Regions from separate parts of the Homo sapiens genome. Here region 2 is linked to region 1. Evidence: fine-mapped expression QTL. Tissue or cell type: whole blood. Region 1 holds a variant in brackets; the other region holds the start of a gene. All regions are shown on one strand. Distances are from middle to middle.

Region 1 (8,104 bases):
AGAACCCCCAAGAAGCTTCTTGCCCACCTCTCTGCTTAAGGGTCTTACTGCCTTCCCCTCACCATGTTCCAGTAATATGGGTCTTCTGGCTATCCCAAGAGTATGCCAAGCTCTTCCCCACCTCAAGCCCTTGGCATTGCCTTTCTCCATCTGGTAAGATCTTCCACAGGCTCTTTGCATGGTCGTTTCTCATTCTCAATCTCCAGGTCTCAGATAATGTGTCAGGAAGGTCTTCCCTGACTTTTGTTATATCCAGGGGATGGCCTGCTGGATACTATCTCCCACATAATCTCATTTACTTCCTTCATATAATATATAATATACAGATCACACTCCATCATTGTTTACTTACTATATTAGTCTGTTCTCATGCTGCTAATAAAGACATACCCAAGACTGGGTAATTTATAAAGGAAAGAGGTTTAATGGACTCACAGTTCCGCATGGCTTGGAGGCCTCACAATCATGGCGGAAGATGAAGGAAGAGCAAAGTCACATCTTACATGGCAGCAGGCAAGAGAGTGTGTGCAAGAGAACTCCCCTTTATAAAACCATCAGATCTCGTGAGACTTATTCACTGTCATGAGAGCAGCACGGGAAAGACCCGCCCCCATGACTCAATGATCTCCCACCGGGTCCCTCCCACAACACATGGGAATTATGGGAATTACAATTCAAGATGAGATTTAGGTGGGGACACAGCCAAGCCATATGGCTTACTTTCAGTGCCTTAAGAGCAAGGATCTTGTCTGTCTTGTTTATGGCTGTATCCCCTGCAGCCAGCACAAGATCTGGCACAAACTAAGTGTTCAATGACTATTTGTTGAATATGTAGACTAACAGGATGGCCTATTGGTTAATCAGGCTGTACATCACAGAAGTAGTGAGTCTCCTGTGAGCCTGTTGGTTGGTCTGAGGATTTGGTCAGCCTGGAGTAGGTCAGGCAGCTGTTGAGTGGGCCACTTACTCTGTGGGGTTGGTCTGTATGACTGACAAGCCAACTGCAAAGCCAGGCCAGGATGCTGGGGGGATACAAGAAGGAAAAGGCCCAGGCCTACCCCTAAGAAGATTCTTGCCCATCTCTATTTAGAGTCTTACTGCTCCCCATTCCCTGGCCAGGAGGTGACACAGGGATGGCCTGGGGGAGTGGGGAGGCTATAGAGCCTGTCCCAAACTGGCAGCTGCTCCTCAGTAATTCTGCTGCAGGGCTTTCAAATCCCATGAACCTCACCTCGTGGCTGCAAGGCTCAGGAAGAGCCTGTGGGGGAGGCACAGAGAGGGCTTTGTGGCTTCCTCGCCACCCCACCTCCTAACCTCCCCTGACCTGGGCTCTCTGCTCATGGAAAGTCCCCCTCTGGACCTGGCTGCCTAGCCCCAGGAGACAGGCGGTAGGACACGTTGCCACTATCTGCTCTCTGCAGGGGCAGAACATGAGCCTGTACCTCTAGGGGCCACTCCTTACAACTGAAGTTGTGCCCTTCATAGACCAGGGGAAGCCCAGCTCTCTGGCTGAGGGAAGAGGCTTTGGATAGAAGCTGGATATGGGACAGTTAATCCCAGATCTCGCCAGGAACACCGCTGCTGTGGGGTCATGGATGTGGCTAGAGTCCCATGGAGTATGTGTAGGAGGGTGTCAGAGCTGCTTGTATGGAAGCAGCTGTTTGCAATAACTAGGCCACAGCACCCAGGCCGCCAGCAATCACCGAGCTTCCATCCTGCTCACTGACAAACTCCATGACCAGGAGGCCCCACTCATGGTGACATCATCCCCTTGCACGCTGCTGAGGGAAATGAGCTCAGGACAGCCATCAGAGGCGGCCTGTTTACTTACAGGGACCCTGGCCGTCAGCAGCTATTTGACCAGACATTCCCTGTCCTGGCCAGCATGAAGCAGAAATTTCCTTAAACACATTACTTTGGCCACAACCCATTGCCTGCTCTCTTGCTTTCAATTTTTTTCAAGAGGAAAATTCCTAGTTCTGGCCCCAAGCAGAGCAGCCAGATATGGTGAGGGGCCGTCACAATGACTCCCAGAGGGCCTTTTGCAGTTTAAGTTACTCCCATCTCCAGGGTAACTCTTAGAGCTGAGAGAACATCAAACCAATTATCTGTGACCCATGTTGGGGATGGCCATTGGGGTGGCCAGCATGACCTCCAGGCAGACCCTCTCCCTGCTTCTCTCAGGGCCTCGGCCACCCTGAGCTCACTTCCAGAGAATTTCCCAACTCAGCAACCCTGGCTGCACCCTAAACCCCTCCCTCAGTCCCTCCAGGTCAGGGATATTTTGGGAGAGCATAAGAGCTGCCAGCTTTAACAGGCTCTAGGGGATTCCCGAGATAGTCACCCCCAGCAACCCTGGCTGAGAGGCACTATCTCCGGACCGCCCCCAACTCTCCTTGTACCTGCTGGAACTCAGCCATTCCAGAGGCCTTGAGGGCACAGGGGTCATGGAGGTCTCCTTGGTCTCTCAGGTGCTCTATGATTCTCAGCCACCTGAGCCAGGAGCAGAGCGATGCGCTCCCAGCAATATCAATCATGGGAGGCAGACGCCCTCCGCCTGTCTGGATGTGCCCATACTGGGGCTGGTCAGGCAGGCACAGACATGTCAGGGAGCTTGAAGACTTACCTGACCCAGCTCTGCCCTGTGGCCTGATCCTATTTAGCTCAACATCCTGCCTCACTGGGTAGGGGCTCAGGGGCAGAATCAGGTCAGAAGAGGGTGTTGAACCTGTCTTTCATAGTACTTATCTGTACACAAGACTGAGAAGATGTCAAGGATCCACATCAGAGAATGGGGTGAAGGGAGTGGCTCACACAGATCTCAGTTGGCAACTTCTTAGAAGGTACCGAAGAAAGGGCCAGATTTTCTCCCCCACTGTCCCCACCCCCAACCACCATAGGGCCAGAATTCCCTAAACATGTGGTTTACATGAATTCAATTTGTCAACGTGTCTACTGAACCCAACATTTGTAAGATATGAAAGCTGGAAAGTCTGTAGATAAGAACAGAAGCTAATATTTATTGAACATCTACTATGTGCCTGGCATCATGCTCAACAATTTTTTTTTTCCCAAGACAGGGTCTCGCTCTGTTGCCCAGGCTGGAGTGCAGTGGTGTGATCATAGCTCACTGCAGCCTCGACCTCCTGGGCTCAAGCAGTCTTCCAGCCTTAGCCTCCTGAGTAGCCAGGACTATCGGCACAGGTCATCAAGCTGGGCTAATTTTTTAAAAATTTGTTGTAGAGACAGGGGTCTGGCTATGTTGCCCAGGCTGGTCTCGAACTCCTGACCTCAAGTGATGCTCCTGACTTGGCCTCCCGAAATGCTGGGATTACAGGCATGAACCGCCACACCTGGCCCATGCTCAACACTTTACACACATTATTTTATTTAATCCTCACAACAATCCTGATGAGGTTAAATAACTCCAAAGGACACAAAATCCATATGGCAGAGCTGGGATTCAAACTGAGTTCTGTCTGAACCCAGAGCTTCTAAAATTAGGCATCTTCCAATTTGACCTCTAAAAAGTAATTAATTAACCCAGGAATCAATCACCCTCCTTCTGTAAACCACACAAGGCCTATACAATTAATGATGAGGTGATCTAACCCTTTCATTCTACAGATGAGAGGCCAGATCACAGTGAGTCTAAGCTGAGCACAGGACTAGTATCTTGGACTCTTAGGTCACTGCCCTCTCACCACCCCAGCCTGTCTACCCAGGCAAGGGAATGGATGGCTGGAGAGCTGTGAGTTCTACCCTCTAGGAAAAACACATATGAACATTCACACAGACAGACACACAGAGACATGTATACACAGGCGATAACACACACAGGCACTTAGACCAATGGATTGTTCTTTTTTTTTTTTTTTTTTTTTTTTGAGACGGAGTCTTGCTTTGTTGCCTAGGCTGGAGTGCAGTGGCGCAATCTCGGCTCACTGCAACCTCCACTTCCCGGGTTCATGCCATTTTCCTGTCTCAGCCTCCTGAGTAGCTGGGACTACAGGCGTCCGCCACCACGCCCGGCTAATTTTCTGTATTTTTAGTAGAGGTGGGGTTTCACCGTGTTAGCCAGGATGGTCTCGATCTCCTGACCTTGTGATCCGCCCGCCTCGGCCTCCCAAAGTGCTGGGATTACAGGCGTGAGCCACCGCTCC[C/T]GGCCGGATTGTTCTTACCTCTCTACTTTCCACAGTTCCTTTCCATGAGGCCCTTGTCCTGGGCCCACCCTTTAGATGGCCACACTCTGGCTTTACTCTGGCCACAGACACCTCTTCAGATTCCCAGTGCCTAGTGTGGGGACAATCACAGAACAAGTACTTTAAAAATGTCCAAGTAAATTAGTAAATCATAAATCAAGAATGAGTGAATGAATGCTTCTGCACAAATAGGCATATGTGCTTTCAGAGGCTCACTGACATATTATTTACACCAAAATAACCTCATGAGTACCCCCACAAACACACGTAGGCAGGTGGTAGACCAATTCAACTATGCAAGCAGTAGAGGCCCACACTTTCCCTCAAAGATACTCACATACATGGGCTTATACAGATGTGAATACTTACATACAGGGAAACACACAAGTACATACTTTCTACCGAGGAACAGCTGCAACCAGCAATGCAGCTGCCTACACACACAAACCCAGAAGTCACACAAACCCACCCTGATCTGCTCAGCTAGACAAAGGCAAAGCTGCAGGCCCAAAACAGACTGGGAGTGAGACATTTGTCCATAGACTCCTGGACTGCCCCTGGATCCCACACTGTCTGCCTCCTTCCCCCTCCTGTCTGCGGCCAGAGGGGGTTCCTAGAATTCCTTTTGCAGACTGGCTGAAAAAGCCGGCTCTTCCTCCTCCCCCACAGACCCAGGCCAGAGTCCTAGGTTAGGGAAGCAGATGTTATACGTTGTGGGGAGCTATGCCTTCCCAAGGACTCTGCCCTTGGTCCCCAGTTGCCTCCCAAAGCCTGACTAAGGCCAGGCTGGACGCTGGATGGTGGCAGAGCACACTCAGGTTCCACTGCCCCAGCTCTATTGCCAACTAGATGATTTAGGAGCATCTAGTGAATAGCGCTTTTCCAGAAGCCTTGCTTCCTTAGGAAACCGCTCAGCCACCAGCCTGATCTTCAAAACAGGCCTAGGGGACGAAAACACTCCTGCTTCTCTGCAAAAACATGGGCAGCTCCTCTTGCTCAGAGCCCCTAGCGTCATCCAAACCACAGCATCTCAAGGCTGTGGGAATTAAAGGCCAGTGTTCTAGTCCTGCTTCTGTCTCAACTCTGTGGACTGTGTCCACTTTTGTAAAATGAGCCATTTGAGTGTGACGACTTCAGATCTAGCTGGAATGGTGTGGGAATCTAATTCCCCAGGCAGCCCCTGGGCGGGGGTGAAGGGGCTCCCACCCCAGGGACAGTGGCCCAGTGGGGGCCTCCTCTTAAGTGACAGTCATATTACAAACACAGGACTTGTGCCTGGAGTGGCTTGAGGCTGAGGTGCCCAGTGCTGGGGCAAAATGGGGACTCAGGAGAAATGTCTCGTTCAACCTGGAGACAGACAGCTACCTTCCTTCTCCCTTGTACCCACTCACCAGATCCTCCAGGCCTCTGCTGGAGGTGGACGAAGGGCTGCAGCCCCACCCAGCCAGGCAGGACTGGAGACAGGAATGCTGCTGAGCCCAGCTGGCCAGAAAGGGGTGACTGTTTGTTCTCTGATGTGAGGAACATCTCAGGCAATCAGGGGGATTTGGCTGCCAGCAGCCCCTGGATGCAAGGTCTCAAAAATTTCAACTTAATCAGAGCAGGCTGATAGCTTGAGCAGGCAGTGGGGGTGGAAGGGAGGGGCCATCCCCTTCCTGCCCCACATTCAGTGCCATGTGTGCCTCTGGGCTCACCTCCTGGGTCTGCAATGATGGGGCTGGGAAGGTTACAGGAGATGAGCTCAGAGCTCTGATTGAGTGGGTGTTGGGGGACTTCCCATGGTTTCCACTTCTGACATTGCAGGTGCCTTCTGCTCATAAAACAGAGCAGAGCTCACAACCCCAGTCTGGAAAGGGAACTCGTTTTCTATTCACTGGGCCTGGTGTCGGCACTCTTGTCTTCCTATGCCACCAGCCTAGGTCTTCTTTGCTCAGACAGCCCCTCTAGCTGCAGCCTTGCACCTGCTTGCCTTTTTTTTTTTTTTTTTTTTTTTTTTTTGAGACAGAGTCTCTCTCTGTTATCCAGGCTGGAGTGCAATGGTGCGACCTCAGCTCACTGCAACCCCCGCCTCCCAGGTTCAAGCGATTCTCCTGTCTCAGCCTGCCCAGTAGCTGGGATTACAGGCGCGCGCCACCATGCCCAGCTGATTTTTGTGTTTTTAGTACAGACGGGGTTTCACCATGTTGGCCAGGCTGGTCTCGAACTCCTGACCTCAAGTGATCTGCCCACCTCAGCCTCCCAAAGTGCTGGGATTACAGGCGTGAGCCACTGTGCCTGGCCATGCCTGCCTTTCTTATTCCTTTAGAGTCAGCCCTGGTTCTGCCTCTTTCTGGCCTTTTAACCTTGCACAAGTCATCTCCAAACCTGTTTCTTCTGTAAAATAAACAGAATAGTATCTGCCTTGCAGGGATACTGTGAAGATTAAATGAGATAATTCTTTTAATATGCACATCATGCAGGAGGCACTTGATACACGGTAGCATCCTTTTCCTTCCTCCCTTCTCCTACTGCTGCAGACTGCATCTCTGGTCTTCCTGAGGGCCAGGCTCCTCCAGTGTAGTTTACAGCCACAGCCCTGGTCAGACCTACCCATTGCTGCTTCCGGACTTTGATGGGCCCTGAGGTTTCTGAGGCCAGAAGCCAGTCCAAGCTGACCGAAGGAGGCCCCTTGAGACTGAGGCTGCAGAAGGCCCCAAAACACAGTGGCGCGCGTGTGTGTGTTTTTCCCATCTCTTATTTATTTATTTAGAGACGGAGTCTCACTCTGCTGCCCAGGCTGGAGTGCAGTGGTGCGATCTTGGCTCACTCAACCTCCGCCTCGCTACAACCTTTGCCTCCCAGGTCCAAGCGATTCTCGTGCCTCAGCCTCCCGAGTAGCTGGGATTACAGGCGTGCACCACCATGCCCAGTTAATTTTTGTATTTTTAGTAGAGACGGGGTTTCACCATGTTGGCCAGGCTGGTCTCAAACTCCTGACTTCAAGTGATCTGCAGGCTTCAGCCTCCCAAAGTGCTGGGATTACAGGCATGAGTCACCATGCCCCTGCCTCCCATCTCTTATTTTGCACAGGTTTGAGTGCCTTGTGGGGATAGTCCAAGGGTCAGGACAGTCAAACTTCATCAATCCAGACTCACTAGTTTGGAATTCACACCTTTCTATAGTTAACAAAGGATTTACATTAAAAATAATGATGCTCCAGGATGGCAAAGGCTATCAGTTAAGATCTACCCACGTTTATTCCCCGTTAAGACCCAACTTACTCTGTTAAATAAAAAGGAATGTATTTATTGGTCACCTAAGTGAAAAGTCTGGCTTCAAGCACAACTGGATTCAGTACTCAAAACAACGTCATCAGGACAGCAGCTCTGCTTTCCACTGTGTTGGCATCAGTCTGAGACTTTGCATGGCAGCCAGATGGCAGCCTCTCACATTCAGGACCACTGAAAATGCAAGTCTCTTTCCCAGGATCCCCAGCAAAACTTATGGTTCATTTTGATGAGATACTATTATCTCATCAAAAGATATGAGATACTATTATTATATCAAAATGAGATACTATTATCTCAAAACTCGTGGCTCATTTTGATGAGATACTAGTTGGGTCACATGCCTAGGTTTTTTTTTTGTTCGTTTGTTTGCTTTTTTGAGATGGAATCTCGCTCTGTCGCCCAGGCTGGAGTGCAGTGGCATGATCTCAGCTCACTGCAAGCTCCACCTCCCGGATTCATGCCATTCTCCTGCCTCAGCCTCCCGAGTAGCTGGGACTACAGGCGCCCACCACCCCGCCCGGCTAATTTTTTGTATTTTTAGTAGAGACGGGGTTTCACCGTGTTAGCCAGGATGGTCTCGATCTCCTGACCTCGTGATCCACCCGCCTCGGCCTCCCAAAGTGCTGGGATTAC
Region 2 (8,104 bases), 37 kb before region 1:
CCGCTCATAGTCGCCCTTCCCGCCTGGGTAGTCGATGTTGAACCATGTTGTCCACTCACCAGGGCCTGAGAGACATAGCCAAATTGCGGAGGAGCCGTGATCCTGGTGCGCTCCAGTTCTCCTTTCCCTCTCACCCACCCCCAGCTGGCCTCAGGCCCTATCACATTTGTCTCTCCAGTATCTCTCCAATCCCCTCTTACACCTGCCACTGCTGAGGCCTCCATTCAAGCTCTCATCAGCCTGACTGAACCATGTCAGTCACTTTCCACATCAAGGCTCCTCCTCAATGCCACTCACACCCATCCCTGACCCTGCAGTCAGGGTGAGCTTTCTTCATGTGGCTCGGGCCACATCACCTCCAGCTTTAAGATCGTCTAGCTAGGCATTCAGGGTGCTGGTGAGCTGTCCCCAGCCATCTCTCCATACTCATCTCCCCACTCCCTTCCCACCAGCCTGTGCTCTGGCCCCAGCAAGCTCCACAGCATTCCTGAAAGGTATCAGGCAGATTCCTGATTCTGAGCTGTCTTATATACTAAGTTCCTTGGCTGGACAGAGATGGAGGCCAAATGCTTGTAAAAGTGGGTTTCCATGGGACCCTGACATCATGCCCTGGCTTCAGAGATCCACTTCGGAAGCTCGTTAAAGGCTGCCCCTCCAGCCCCTCCCTGCTTCAGCCACAACTCACTCTCCAGGGTGTCGGCAGGCTTGGCAAAGATGCTGGGGTTCTTCTTCCCAGGCTGGACTCTTCTTACTGACTGGGTGAGCATCGTCTGTCTCCCTGAGGGCCAGAAGGAGAAGCTAAGTGAGAGGCCAGGACTGGAAGTTACAGCATTCCTCAAGATGCAGGGAAACAGTGTGAGGTGGTGAATGGAGCATGAGCACCAGGCATGGGTTCAAACCCCACTCTGCTACTTATTGCTGTGCAATCTCAGAAAAGCTTTACTCCTCTGAGCCTGTTTCCCCATAAAATAGGAATGCACTAATAATTGCTGCATCCTAGGGTCCTGGTGCATTATTCAGGTGATAATGAATGTAAAGAGACCTGGCTTGTAGTGCACACTCAGTGAATGGTATCTCCCTTTTCACTCTTGTTCTAGAAATGGATTATCAGATGCTCCTGAGCAGCCAGTGGCCTGGGACTCCTGCTTTGGTGTCTGCACCAAACCTTCTTGGCAAAATGGAGCTTTGTTTTCCTCATGTGTAAAATGGAGATATTTATTCCCATCTCGCAGGGTGATTCAGTTGGCATGAGGATTCCATGAGCTAGAACGTAAAAGCCTCTGAAGTATATGCAGATTGACAGTGTGGGCTCCTGAGACTCTGCCAGTTTCTAACTGTGTGACTTTGGGCAAGTTACTTAACCCAGCTGACCCCATGTTCTTTCATCATAAAATAAGGATAATGATAGTTCCTGCCTTAGAGTATTGTGGGGATTAAATAAGCTCATTCATAAAATCCACTTAGAACAACACCTAGCACATAACGCATACTGAATAAGTGCTAGCAACTTCTTTTAGCTCAACGCCAGAATAGATGGCCATTTACTTTCCCTTGGGAGTCCACTCTCCCATAAAGACTCCTATGGCCTAATTGGGGCAGCGGTCCTCAATTTTCCATACGAGGCTGGCAGGGACTGCCTGAGGATGGGTACAGGGTCCTCGGGCCACAAGCAGTTCCAGCTGTACCCTACCTGAGGCTGGGTTGGGGTCTCCAGAATGGGAAGGAGAATGCGGAGCAGAGGGCTGCAGAAGCTTTGACAGGCAATTAACGCTTACTCCAGGAGCCAAATCAGAATTCTCTATGCTGCTTAATTGGGGTGATAGGAGCTCTTTTAATCAACCTAATCTGATTTCCCCTCAGATGGTTGAATGTTAATCATCTTCACAAGCAGCAGCTGTCAGGGTGGAAAGAGCAAGGCAGGAGGCAGGCACATACAGGGGTTGGCTCCAGGCTGAGACAGCCTTTGTTCCTGCATTTGTAGCCACAAATCCTGCAAGGCATACAGCTTTAAAGGAGGGTTTTGAGCTTTTTTTTTTTTTTTTTTTTTTTTGCTTTTGCTTTACCTGAGTATGTGCTTAGAAATCAGGAGAGGAAGGGGAGGAGGTGGGAGAGAGTGTGCAGGGGAGGGCTGACGCTTAGATGCCTTGGGAAGTCTTCTGTTCCACCAGACAAATTCTTTCTACGAGTTCCTTCCAGAGCTCAGTATCACCAGAGGATGCAGTCAGAGGGCAAGGAGACCGGAAGGGGTTCTGGTGTGTCTGTGAAATTTGGCTGCAGGGTCTAAATGAAATTGAGCTTTGGGCCAAAAGAATCTTCATAAAACTAAAAACAGACCAAACCCCAAACCTGCTTCTGAGATCTCACTGATGCCCTGTGATTCCCTATTACTTTGGCTGCCAGGAAGCTCGGAGCTCAATTTGGTACTCAAGGGCTAAAAATAACCCTCTTATCTTTTTTTCCTCCCTCTGAATGACTGCTCATCCCTCTTCTCATATAAAGGTTCTGTTTTGTGAGTTTTAATAATGGGAACAATCTCAAGTTTTGGAGAAAAACAAACAGGGTATAAATTACGAATAAATCCATAAAGTGGCCTCAGGTCTTAAGGCCTTGCTGTGTCTTAAGGCAGATGCATAGTTCAGTCCCAGACCAGACACAACCTCACTGTGGCAAGTGGAAGATTTGGGAGCCAGCAGATACTTAGCCTATACCCAACACAGATGTGACTTCCAGGACCAGGAAGGAGAACACCCAGGCCTTGGTCCCCACCATCTTTCCCCCAAGCCCGTGGGAACGTGGCAAGAGGTAGATGTGGGTGCTTCACAGAGTCACTGACTCTGGAATGCGGTCCCCTGGGAAGTTTCTCAGATCCAGTGACCTGTAAAGAAACAAAGCTTGTCAGGTTTCATATTTCTGAATCACCGCTTATGGCTCAAGCAGAAATATTTCTTGACCTGTCAAGGAGGGAAAGGTGGACAGAATGATATGAAAGTGATATCTGCCTGAGTTGTGAAACCAGGTAGCTTGGGAGGTGCAGAGGCTCAGAATCTGAGTTCAAATGAGGCAGACTAGGTTCCATCCCTGGGGGTAGGCTCCAGGGCCCCACATGGAGATGAGGCACAAGGACAAGCAGGGGCGAGGAGGTTCCTTGCAATGAGGAGAGTCCAGGGCTCACCCCCAGCAGCCTCTTGGTGACTCGTCACTTCTAAAACCCAGGCCTGAGGGGCATTTGTTTTGCCATCCTTTGATGGAGTTCACACTCTCACACAGGCGGGTACATATTAAGGCCGTGAAGACTTGGCTCCGACTCCAGTGGCCTCTCATAAGGCAGGCTGGCTGGAGGGTGCAGATGCCTCGGACATACCACCTCCATGAACACATTCCCAGATGTGCACGGGCTGCAGCTGGAACACATTTCTGGCCTTTTTGTTTGGGGCCTGACTGGGAGTTACACAGCCAGGAGCCAGCTGACGGAAAGCAGAGGGGATGCATTGTGAGAGGCCAGGGCTCCCCAGTAACTGCTGAGCGTGGGTGAGGAACTGCAAGGGTCAGGAGAGGAAAGCAGGCCTGGGACAAGGGCAAGGAACTATGGGGCGTGCGTGGCCCAGGCCGCAGCTGAGCAGAACATTTTTATGTCTCCCCAGAGCTCCGGCCAACCCAGAATCTGACTCGTTTCTGGGGATTCAAAAGTGGTTCCCTTCAACATCCTAAGTCCAGGGTGTGGTAGGAAAGGGAAGAGTCCTCCTCTCTAAAAAATACACATATCTGAAAACACTGGGATATTCCAGGGGAAGAAAAAACCAGTCCCATGCTGCAGACCTTCTAGCTCTAAAACCACTGGCCCCACCACTACCTGTTTCTCGGATGAGGGAGCAGAGTCACCAGGACGTCCCAAAGGCCTCCACATTGTGTGTATCCCTCTGGGCTCCAAGCAGGGAGCTGAGCAGTCTGCTGGCCTGCACTGCATTCAGCCTGAGCCTGAGCCTGCTCCAGGGATGTCTGGAGGCTGAGGTGGCCTGAGACACCTTGTGGAAAAACCATTTCCCATCTGGCAGCCCACAGAGGTTTCTCAGCATCTCCGCCGTTTCCTCAGCATATGCCCTGATGGTTAGGCTTGCCATCCCACGCTCCTCAGAACACTTGGACAAAGCAGACTGGCTGACCGCAGGGAATAAAGCAGGGCACCCAGAGGTATGGAAACCCTAAGTGGGACCATCTGGGGGTTCCTGTCCTCAGGTGGGGGAGGGAGAGGACTTTGGGCCAATGGGGGAAAGCAGATTCCCAAAGCAGAAAGGGAGTCTTCTCTGTGGGAGATGAAGGATCAGGCAGCAAAAAGTGGGGGGAAGTGGGGAGAAGGGAATGGAGTAGTCAGGGGAGGGCAGGAGCAGTTGAGTCCAGCAGTGGGGTGCAGGGATGGGGTGAGGGGAATAGGAGTGGAGCTCACCGTGTCTTGAGCAGGACTCCTCAGCTGGGGGTCCAAGCCTTCGCCTCTCCAGCAGTCCAGTGCCGGCCTTATATAGCACAGCTGGTGGCTCAGCCTGTGGCAGCCAGCCAGAGGAAGCAGCAGCGAAACCAGATCTGAGCATGAGCCTCCCTCTCCCCTCCCCATGTCCCCTTGCAGTTCACAGAGGCCAGGATTTTATGTCCAGATCCTAAGGAGGAGATGCCGCAGGACCTGGTGATGGGCCAGGTGGGCAGTGGCCTGGGGCATCACAGTCCAGAGCAGAGAGAGGGGTCAGGAGGTGGGCTGGGCACTAGAAACAGCCCTGGGAAGGGGCCACGGGGAATTCTAGATCTGGGCAGCATTTCATGGCCCGGGGGATGGTGTGCTCTTGCCTAAGCCTAGCTTGCTGATGCCCCACATTCCCCTGGCCCTGGCTCGCCCACACAGAGAAAAGACTTTGCTGGTCTTAGCACATACTCCAAACACTCTTAGGCACACAGGCCACCTTGGCCTCTCAGCTGGGTGTGTCTGGTCTGAGTTGGGCAACTACTCAGCTTCTCTGGCTTCTGAGGGAACACTCAGGGAACCTCAGAAGGGATAAGGGACAAAAGAATTGTGGGGCATAGGTTGTCAGCTGGTGAGAACAGTTCTTCCTTTCTCCCCCCCACTTCCATCTGAGTGCCTGCTGGTACCCACTGAGACCCCAGAGCTCCAGCATGTGGACTCTTCTGAGACCCTGATGCTCATATATGTGCATGCGTGTGAGTACGTGTCTGCCTTCAGGTATAGGCATCCACCAGCATGTGAACAGCCAGTGTTACCCATAGGGGGCGTATGCAGCTGCATGTGCTCTGGGGCTTCACACCCCCACTCCCGGCCCCCTGGCCCCAGCATGAGGTTATCTGTTTGCACAGACACTGGTTCTCTAATTTTAGCATGTGTTAGAATCACCTGGAGGGCGGTTAAAGCAGATTTCTGGACCCCACACCCAGAGTTTCTGATTCAGTGGGGCCTGAGACTTTGCATTCTAACAAGTTCCCAGATGAGATTGATGCTGTTGGTTCATGGATCACATTTTGAGATTGACTGGTCACAGTGATAGAGCCCCAGTTGAAGGAAGAAGATGAAGAGCGAGTGTACTAAGGACCACAGTGGGAGCTTCCCAGGTCCTGCCCCATGTAGCAGGCTCATCTAGCCTGGGCTGGGCTTCCTGCCTCATGCCAGCAACTGGAGATGGAGGCCTGGTCCTGTGGCCATCCACGCCAGGGTCAGCTCACTCTCTCCACATACCTTTACCGAGCTCTTATTCCCAGGCTCTAGACTGGGCACTGGGAAGGCACAAGAAAAGAGATGTATCCTTGCACTCAGAGGAAAGAGCCTCACGTGGAAATGATCCCGTAGTACAACAGTGCATACCCACATGCCAGAGAGTTCTGTGTGTGTGTGTTTATGCCTTTTCCTGTGTGTATGTGTCTTTCTGTGTGTGTGTGTGTATGTGTGCGTAAGAGCTGTTTTTTCTGAGCATTGCCTTTGACAAGATATACTGGGAGGCTGGGTGGAGTGGCTCACGCCTGTAATCCCAACACTGTGGGAGACAGGGGCGGGTGGATCACTTGAGGTCAGGAGTTCAAGACCAGCCTGGTCAACATAGTGAAACCCATCTCTACTAAAAATAGAAAAACTAGCCAGGCATGGTGGAGTGTGCCTGTAATCCCAGCTACTTGGGAGACTGAGGCAGGAGAGTGGCTTGAACCCAGGAGGCAGAGGATGCAGTGAGTTGAGATCGTGCCACTGCACTCCAGCCTGGGTGACAGAGTGAGACTTGGTCTAAAAAAAAAAAAAAAAAAATCTGCTGGGGAAGAGAGTGGGGGTGGAGAAAGGATGTTGAGCAGCATGGTTCCCAAGTAGACCTGGGGCATAGATCTGATTTGCTTTATCTCCTGGAGCCCCGTCTCCCTCCTGGCCACCAGCCCTTGGTTCATAAGCCCTGTAGTTGGCCCTAGTCTGGTCCAACTTGTCAGAGCCAAGCCATGACTCAGTTTCAGCCATGGCTTTGACTGCAGACGTCTGAACTGAGTGAACCCCATGTGAAATCTGATGGCCTAAGGAATAGACAGACAGACAGGCTGAGCCACAATCCCCAGATCAAAGGACAGGAGAAAAATTGAAATTTGGAATTCAGAAGCCTAGTCCTGGCTGTTTCTGATTCTGATATGCGACCGTGAACTAGCAAGAACCCAAGTAACCCTGGGCCTCAGGTGTGCAACGGGAGATGGACTGAGTGAGTTTGCAGGCCCCTGCCAGCTCTGAGATTGCAAGGTTTGAGATATACAGATGCTCTTTGGCTTATAGTAATGTCCCAATAAACCCACTGTAAGTTGAAAATATCATAAGTAAAAAAAATACGCTTAATGCACCTAACCTACTGAACATCAGAACTTAGCCTAGCCTACCTTAAATATGTTCAGAACACTTACATTAGCCTACAGTAGCCTACAGTTGTACGAAACCATCTAACAAAAAGCCTATTTTACCATAAAGTATTGATTATCTCATGTGATACATTGAATACTGTACTGAAAGTGAAAAACACAATGGTTGTACAGGAAAGTACAGTTTCTACTGAATTTGTGTCACATTTGCACATCATAAAGTCGGAAAATTGTAACTTGAATCATCCTAAGTTGGGGACCATCTGTACTGACAGCAAACAGAGCTGGGAGGAGAGAGTGGAGGGAACGACTGCTCCTACGTGTCTGGCAGAAGTCAGAGGAGCCAGTGTGGAGTCAAGGTCAGGAGGAAGTCCAGAGAAGCAGATATGACCACCAAGGCTGGATAAGGACAGCAAGAGAGATACACAGGAAAGGAAGGTAGTGGGAGGTAAACCAGAGGGCAAGGTCAGGGTAATCAGCTGCTCTCCAAGGCCTTCATTCTGTGGAATGCCAGGGTGGGTAAGAGACGCCTCCCCAGCCTCCCAGTCACCTCCATCTCTTTCTGTAGTGGGAGGCAGGGTACCCTATGGGTGAGGATTGGGCAAAGTGGAGTGTTTTAGGCCAGGATTCCTGCCTGGGTCTCCTCATTCAGCCCAGCACTCACACTGAGGCCCTCACTTACCTAGCCCCAAGTGGCCAGTGCGTGTTAATATGGTAAGTACAGGGTTGAGGGCTGCGTTCCAATTCCACCATGCCATTTCCGTCCACCTGTCTCATATCTTGCCTCCTCCCATACTCCCATCAGAGTCCTTTCCTGTCTCCAAGTAGGAATGAGCTGTGTGAGCTGCACAGGGCTAGACTGGGGAAATCTGAGCCTGCCCTCACTCTCTCTTCCCAGGACTCCTTTGGGGGGGAAGCTATTGCTGTCCTCAACCAGGACCCCAGAATAGAGAGGGCTTTGGAGGTGGCCGTAGGTCTAGACTGTCCAAGGCCTGGCCTGGGTGGGTCAGCCTCAGCCACGAGTGGCCATCTGGGGCTTCTGCAAGCCAGGCTACTCTGCAGCCACTCCAAGCTTCTGCCTGGAACATGCTGGAAACCCATCAATCACCCCATCCCTGCCCAGGGGATGAAGGGACTTGGAACCCAGCTTAGCTAGGCCACCTGTAACCCAAGCCTATAGCCAGGGGTCCACACCCTGCACCCTGCAGTGGGGAAAGGAGCTTGGGAACAC

The links. PIP is the estimated chance that this variant, and not a neighbour inherited with it, causes the effect.
Region 2: it holds the start of CILP, and the variant in region 1 is fine-mapped to the expression of CILP in whole blood (TOPMed, PIP above 0.99). The same link has a PIP of 0.9 or more in blood mononuclear cells.

The regions. Positions count from the first base shown.
Region 1 is chr15:65,243,936-65,252,039 of GRCh38, forward strand. It overlaps a transcript of PARP16 not described here. Among named protein-coding and RNA genes, the nearest start is that of CILP, 37 kb to the left of the region's middle. The variant C/T (reference allele first, on the strand shown) is at 4,164.
Region 2 is chr15:65,206,987-65,215,090 of GRCh38, forward strand. It overlaps CILP (cartilage intermediate layer protein), which reads right to left and starts at 4,487. Exons shown (of 9, transcript NM_003613.4): 1 at 4,442-4,487; 2 at 2,709-2,875; 3 at 686-778; 4 at 1-65. The coding sequence starts at 2,769. RefSeq lists an enhancer at 5,116-6,017.